Homo sapiens: one gene and its partner. The protein of the gene in region 1 purifies or fractionates together with the protein of each later gene. This does not show direct contact. Each region holds a gene or a part of one and is shown on either strand. Other genes may lie near its edges.

The links.
Region 2: the proteins of CYP3A7 (region 1) and CYSTM1 purify together in Homo sapiens (affinity purification with mass spectrometry, with the first as the bait; one large-scale study listed by BioGRID). This does not show direct contact.

What each region holds. Positions count from the first base shown.
Region 1 is NC_000007.14:99,714,697-99,718,196, forward strand, and holds part of CYP3A7 (cytochrome P450 3A7), read right to left. Parts: intron 2,944-3,500; coding exon 2,830-2,943; intron 2,570-2,829; coding exon 2,481-2,569; intron 1,211-2,480; coding exon 1,062-1,210; intron 1-1,061. Other genes in the region: CYP3A7-CYP3A51P protein, read right to left, coding at 1,062-1,210, 2,481-2,569, 2,830-2,943. UniProt on the Homo sapiens protein: A cytochrome P450 monooxygenase involved in the metabolism of steroid hormones and vitamins during embryogenesis.
Region 2 is NC_000005.10:140,178,188-140,181,687, reverse strand, and holds part of CYSTM1 (cysteine-rich and transmembrane domain-containing protein 1), read right to left. Parts: intron 1-3,500.

The sequences.
Region 1 (3,500 bases):
AACCAACAGAAAACGAAACCATTGTGAACATACAAAATTTACCTGGAGCAATTCTAATTTTCTCTACCAATCAGAAGAGTGAAATACATCAGTGTTCTCAACTGGAAGCCATTCCTTCTATGACTTTTGCCCCTCTTCCAGGCCAGTGGCTGAGCAAGGGAAGGTCTGTGCATAGGGACCACCACTACAGCAGTGAGATCAGCAGCCCCTTCTGCATCTTTTGAATGATGAAAGGAACAAAATTCAATGCCCTAATCTCTTTGCCTTTATGTATTGGGCTAGGGTCTCTTAGGATAACCCAAATCATAATTTGCTGCTTAAATTAATCATGCTCTTCAAGAAATCAGATAGAAATAACACAGTGTATCTCTGTCACCTATCATAGGATAAAGCTAAAATCAATAAGGTAACGAAAATTGGGAAACTCACACATACGTGGAAGTTAAACAATAAACTTTTAAGCAACCAATAAGTTGAAGTAGAAATTAAAAGGGCAAATAGAAACTGTTTTGAGCTGAGCAAAAATTAAGATGTGATAGGCCAGAATGTCATGTTATTTAGCAAACAAGTGCCCAGAGGGAAATTTATAGTTGTAATGTCTAAATTTAGAGGAAAAAAACCCACAAATCAATAATCTACATTCATGCCACAACACAGTAAACGGAGAAGGGCAAACTAAGCCTGAAGCCAGCAGAAGAAAGAAAATAATACAGACTAAAGTACAAATTCATGAACTAGAGAATTAAAAAAACCCTGAAAAATTAATATCATTTCTATGAAGTGTCCAGAATAGGCAAATCTATAGATGCAGAAAGTTGACTAGTGGTTATATACGACAACAGGATTTCTGGCAGGGGGTTGATAGCTAAACATGTATGAGGTTTCTAGAATGACAGAAGTGTTTTAAAGTTTACAATGGTGATGGTCGTACATATCTTCAAATGTACTACAAACCATTAAACTGTACATTTTAAGTGGATGAATTACATGGTGATTTACATCTCAATAAAGCAGTTATTTTTAAGAGAGAGGGAGAGAAAAGGAAATAGTAGTCCACATACTTATTGAGAGAACGAATGGATCTAATGGATTAAATCTTAAAAGCTTCTTGGTGTTTTCCACAAAGGGGTCTTGTGGATTGTTGAGAGAGTCGATGCTCACTCCAAATGATGTGCTAGTGATCACATCCATGCTGTAGGCCCCAAAGACGCTGAGTGGAGAAAGATGTGGAAAATTAAAATCAGCACCTCTTTACCATCCTTCCTCTATGCGTGCAGCAGGAAATCCACATGTCCAGTCAAGACAGACAAACAGCCACAGACTTTCAGAACTATTTACTGGAGCATCTCCCATCACACTCCCTCAGAAGGTGATTATCAGGTGTCAGTGACACAGCTGGCTCTCCGCTGGGGGTGATGGAGACACTCAACTGAGTTAGACTTACCTCTGAGGTCAAGGAGCCTAGTCATAGAAAGACAGAGATCCACTATCAGACAACTGCAGTAGCATGTGTTAATTGTGGATGATACAAGATGGGTAAGCACTGTGCTTCAGCAGAACAAGAGTAGAAAAATTCACTCTTTCTAAGGGGCTCAAGACAGGTGACATTGCCTGACTACAGACTCTATGCCCAGAGCCGATTCCTCTTCAGCACTTTACAAAGCAACAGTACCATGTCCTGAGCTCCTAGAAATATCATCCTTATTCTCTATACTCCCTGCTCAAGCTTTGGAAAATTCCACTATCCCCAGCTGTGGTGAGCTGAGGTTGCCCTGATGGCAGAATTATTTTTGTAAAATATAATGACAAATGATGTCCTGGTTAAAAAAAACTCTCAAAATTTGATTTGGAAACTTCTATAGTGAGTGACCACATATCCCCTGTCTGCCCAGGACAGGCTCAGATTACACCTGTTGTTCCTGCATAAGTGTAGACAGCAAATAATAGGCTTGCCCCACCTATAGCGTTTTTACCACCCTCTCTCTTTGAGACTGGAGGAAAAAGAAATGGTGGGAATGTTTAATATTTAGTATTCTACTGATACCCTCAGAAAAAAAACATGAAATGATCAAAGTTATTCTAAGTTCTCCATTATAACTTTCCCACCCTACTCACTGCCAACCAACAGATACCAAGTGCCTTCCCCTTCCACCATCCCATACACTCCATGCTTAAAACTTTGATACAATCACACTTTTCCCCCTAAAGGATGTATTTAGTCCTCCAGAATATCCAAGGTGACAATTTAACAGATATGTAAACCCTGACCTCTGTGCACAGGGGAGAAGATCCTTTTCCTCCAGCTGCCCCACCTCCTCATCGGAGCTGCCCCATCTTGGGAGACCCATTGAAGTTGCATTACCACAGCCCTCCTTTTGTCTGGTCACTGGAATAACCCAACAGCGGGAGTATCAGCTCCATAGCAGGCAGCTGGAGGGGCTCATGACAGCTCAGAACCCCATGGCTGTGCTCCTACTTACTGTTTCAAGGTGACAGGCTTGCCTGTCTCTGCTTCCCGCCTCAGATTTCTCACCAACACATCTCCATACTGGGCAATGATAGGGACCATCTAAGCACAAAACACAACACCACCCATAGTTAAATGTGCAGACATAAGTCCCAGAAGGACATGACTTTGCCTGGCATGGAACAATAAGTGACATTGTATAATGAATTTTATGATGTGTTTTCTGTACATAAAAAGACTATTTTTAGGAAGCTCAAATTCAGCAGACTACTCCTCGGAAAGGAACTCTGATCTTACTTTCTACCTGTCCCCACCTGATTCATTCTTTAAGTTTCTAATTAAAACCCAAGTTATTTTCATACCTCCTTGAGTTTTCCGCTGGTGAATGTTGGAGACAGCAATGATCGTATTCTCTTCCATTCTTCATCCTCAGCTATAGAGATGGCATTTTTCATAAATCCCACTGGCCCGAAAGGCTAGAGTTCAAAGCAGAAAGATTTTGTCCTACATCAGTTGTGGAGGTCTCCATGGTTGTAGAAAATGTGTTAAACAGGCATCATGTATTTAACAAATATTTAGTGACTGTCTACTAAGTGACAGGCCCTATGACAGATGCTCAATAGGATTTATCCCACATGCCCAGCCACCTGATGTGGTCTCCAGCCTGTATATCCCAGTCTCCTTTTACATGCAAATTCTCCACATGGTACGGAACCTGTTCTTCCACTGGAATAGACAGGATCAACACCTAGCACGCGTGCAGTGTAGAGAGAGAGTGGAGACAGAGAGGCAGGTGGCTTTGTTGGACTGTATGTTGCCTCAGACGAGCTCTGTCTTTATGTTCACCTAAACCATGGGCAACATGAAAAAGAGGTGCCTTGATGTGGTAGATTTAAAAAAATATACAATGAGAACACATGGACACAGGAAGGGGAACATCACACACTGGGGCCTGTTGTGGGGTGGGGAGAGGGGGGAAGGATAGCATTAGGAGTTATACCTAATGTTAAATGATGAGTTAATGAGTACAGCA
Region 2 (3,500 bases), on another chromosome or scaffold:
TAGTGAGACCCCCATCTCTATGAAATATAAATAAAAAATTAACCAGGCACAGTGATATGTGCCTGTAGTCCTAGCTACTCAGGAGACTGAGGTGGGAAGATCTTTTGAGCCCAGGAGTTTGAGCCTGCACTGAGCTATGATCATGCCATGCACTCCAGTCTGGCAGATTGTCCCTAAAGCAAAATAATAATCAGTAAGTAAATACAATTATCCCTCATTAGTTTCTCACACAGCCACCACCAGACATTAAAGGCCACCAAAAATTAGTTCAACAAAGTTAGCAGAGCCAGAAGGGTGCAGAAACTGCGATCAAAGATTAGATTGGCTTTAGAGAGGGTGGTGTTGGGGAGGAAAGGCTGTTAGTGGGGAAGAGGCAGAAGGGCAAAGTCTGGAGTGTCCAGGAAGCTAGTGGCAGCAGGAAAGCACTAAGTATTCGACTTAACAATAAGGGCTCACAGAATAGCCACATTCTTACAAATGTCCCCCTCTTCACACACTTTCTCCCCAACTGACTCTGCCTAAGATTCTGAAACTGAAAGCTGACCAGTAAAGTACTGCGTGCAGCATTAAACGTTTAACGTGGCAGAAGTCTAGCACCATTTCCCAGGTCTTCCTCTCCCCAAATGTCTTTGTAGTTCAACTGTTTCCCATCCCTACTTTTCTCTGAATAAGAAGCATGCCTAGATAGTTTTCAGTTACGATGTTTTCTGAGCCAATGCTCTTGAGACTGGCTAATGATTCTTTAGTACAAATAATCAGGAAACTAGTGATAGGAACCTCTGAATAAGGCATTTACTCTTCAGTGAGTAAATTCAGGTAGATCAAACCCTCCTCCCACCATGACCATCAATATTCTCCCTTAAACCATTTAATGAAAAGAGTTTAGAAAAATATAAATCATCTGTTGTTTTGGCAAAGTCATACCACAAGCTTGCTGCCCACAGAGACTGGATTCAAACCATTTGTCTCCTTTGCTTTAGATGTGAGGACCTACCCAGTTTCCAAGATCTGACTTGGAGGCCTAAATCAATAATAATATTCCACATACATCTCCTAAAAGCTATAAAGGAATCATTCCAAGCTCACTTCCTTTTGAAGACTCCTTTGTGTAGTGCCCAAAATGGTGTGAACATTTTTGGTTGTAAAGTGGGAGGGTCAGTTTATGTTCAATTCCCTTGCTTTATACTACTGCTGTTTAATTGCTGACTCCCATTTTATAGCCAAGCCAATTAGTAGCCTTGGCCAAGCGTGAGGAGCTTGGAAGCCTGAAACATGGCACTCAGCTAAGCCTACAGATAACAGAAAGCCTTTTCTGTCAGAATTTCCCTCATGAGAGAGAGCTTGACCTGGCCAACAAATGTCAGAAGTCTAAAAGATGGATGTTGTAGTTCAGTACGTAGTGTCCCTGGGCACATCAGCAAGCACTCGAATCCTACTAGATTGAGTGACAGGACTGGTGGCCTGACACAGGTGAGGGAAATTTTAAAAGATGACTATTTCACTCCTCATCCAATTTACTGAACAATCTTACTCCCTTTTGTCTCTGACCAGCTTAATAACTTACTCCTTTGAGGGCTGTGACACTTTCTGATAATACTCTTGCTGTTAAAAAAGATGCTGGGTCATAGGCTGCCAGTTCCACAGCCTTCTGTTACTGGTTTACTCCAGGCACTCCAAAAAAAGCCAAGACCAGGTTAACAGAGAATAAAAGAAAAAAGAGAGTGAGGCTGGGCGCGGTGACTCACGTCTGTAATCCCAGCACTTTGGGAGGCTGAGGCGGGTGGATCACCTGAGGTCAGGAGTTCGAGACCAGCCTGGCCAACGTGGTGAAACCCCGTCTCTACTAAAAAATACAAAAAATTAGCCAGGCATGGTAGTGCATGCCTGTAGTCCCAGCTACTCGGGAGGCTGAGGCAGGAGAATCGTTTGAACCTGGGAGGCAGAGGTTGCAGTGAGCTGAGATCGTGCCATTGCACTCCGGCCTGGGAGACAGAGCAAGACTCTGTCTCAAAAGAAAAGAAAAGAAAGAAAAAAAAGAGAGTGAACAATCTGAGCTTTACTATTTATATATGAAATATAAACAGGAATTTAGTTAGCCTCAGGCTTCCAAATTTTTATTTTTATTTTTCAGACAGAGTCTTCCTCTGTCTCCCAGGCTGGAGTGCAGTGGCACAATCTTGGCTCATTGCAACCTCCGCCTCCTGGGTTCAAGCAATTCTTGTGCCTCAGCCTCCCGACTTAGCTGGGATTACAGGCGTATGCCACCATGCTCAGCTAGTTTTTGTAATTTTAGTAGAGACAGGGTTTCGCCATGTTGGCCAGGCTGGTCTCGAACTCCTGGCCTCAAGCAATCCACCCACCTCGGCCTCCCAAAGTGCTGAGATTACAGGTGTGGGCCACCGTGCCCAGCCATTTTTTTTTTTTTTAAGCGACAAGATGTCATTCTGTCTTCCAGGCTGGAGTGCGGTGGCGTGATCATGGTTCATTGCAGCCTCAAACTCCTGGGCTCCAGCGATCCTCCCACCTCAGCCTCCTGAGTAGCTAGGATTACAGGCACATACCACATGCCCAGCTAATTTTTAAAAATTTTTTGTAGCTATGGGGTCTCCCTGTGTTGCTCAGGCTGGTCTTGAACTCCTGGGCTCAAGCGATCCTCTTGCCTCAGCCTCCCAAAGTGCTAGGATTACCGCACCGGGCCTCAGATCTTGATTACAGGCTGATTAGTAACCAAGCCCATAAAACCCCAGGAAAAAACAAAGCCAAACAAAACAAAAAACCAGCAAAAAGTCCAGGCATGGTAGCTCATGCCTGTAATCCCAGCACTTTGGGAGGCTGAGGCAGGCAGATTGCTTGAGCCTAGGAGTTTGAGGGGAGCCTGGGCAACATGTCAAAACTCCATCTCCACAAAAAACACAAAAAATTAGCTAGGTGTGGTGGTGCAGGCCTGTAGTCCCAGCTACTCAGGAGACTGAGTCGGGAGGATGGCTTGAGCCCAGGAGGTGGAGGTTGCAGTGAGCTGCGATTACACCACTGCACTCCAGCCCAGGCAACAGAGCCAGAACCTGTCTCAAAAAAATTAAAAAAACCAAATCAGCAAAAAGGTCTTAGATAGCCAGGCATGGTCGCCTGTAGTCCCAGCTACTCACAGGGTTGAGGTGGGAGGATCACTTGAACCCAGGAGTTAGAGACCAACCTGGGCAACATAGCAAGCCCTGTTTCTGAAAAAAAAAAAAAAAAAAAAAAAAAGGAAGGACTTGAATAGGGCTTTTCCAAAAACTTAGAACTTCAAACTCTTTTAAAAAACTTTTATCACATCTCAAAATATACCATTCATCCAAGAATTAAAATATTCTGCTTTGGAGGAGCTCAAATTTCATATAAGCCTCTCATTAATTCTCCTTGGTACCTCTGTGAGGAGGTACTGACCCGCATTCAAGGTCAAAGAAAGTTTCCATGCCAAGAAAGGAGTGCCCTGCTCAAGGCCTTAGTTGACAAATGTG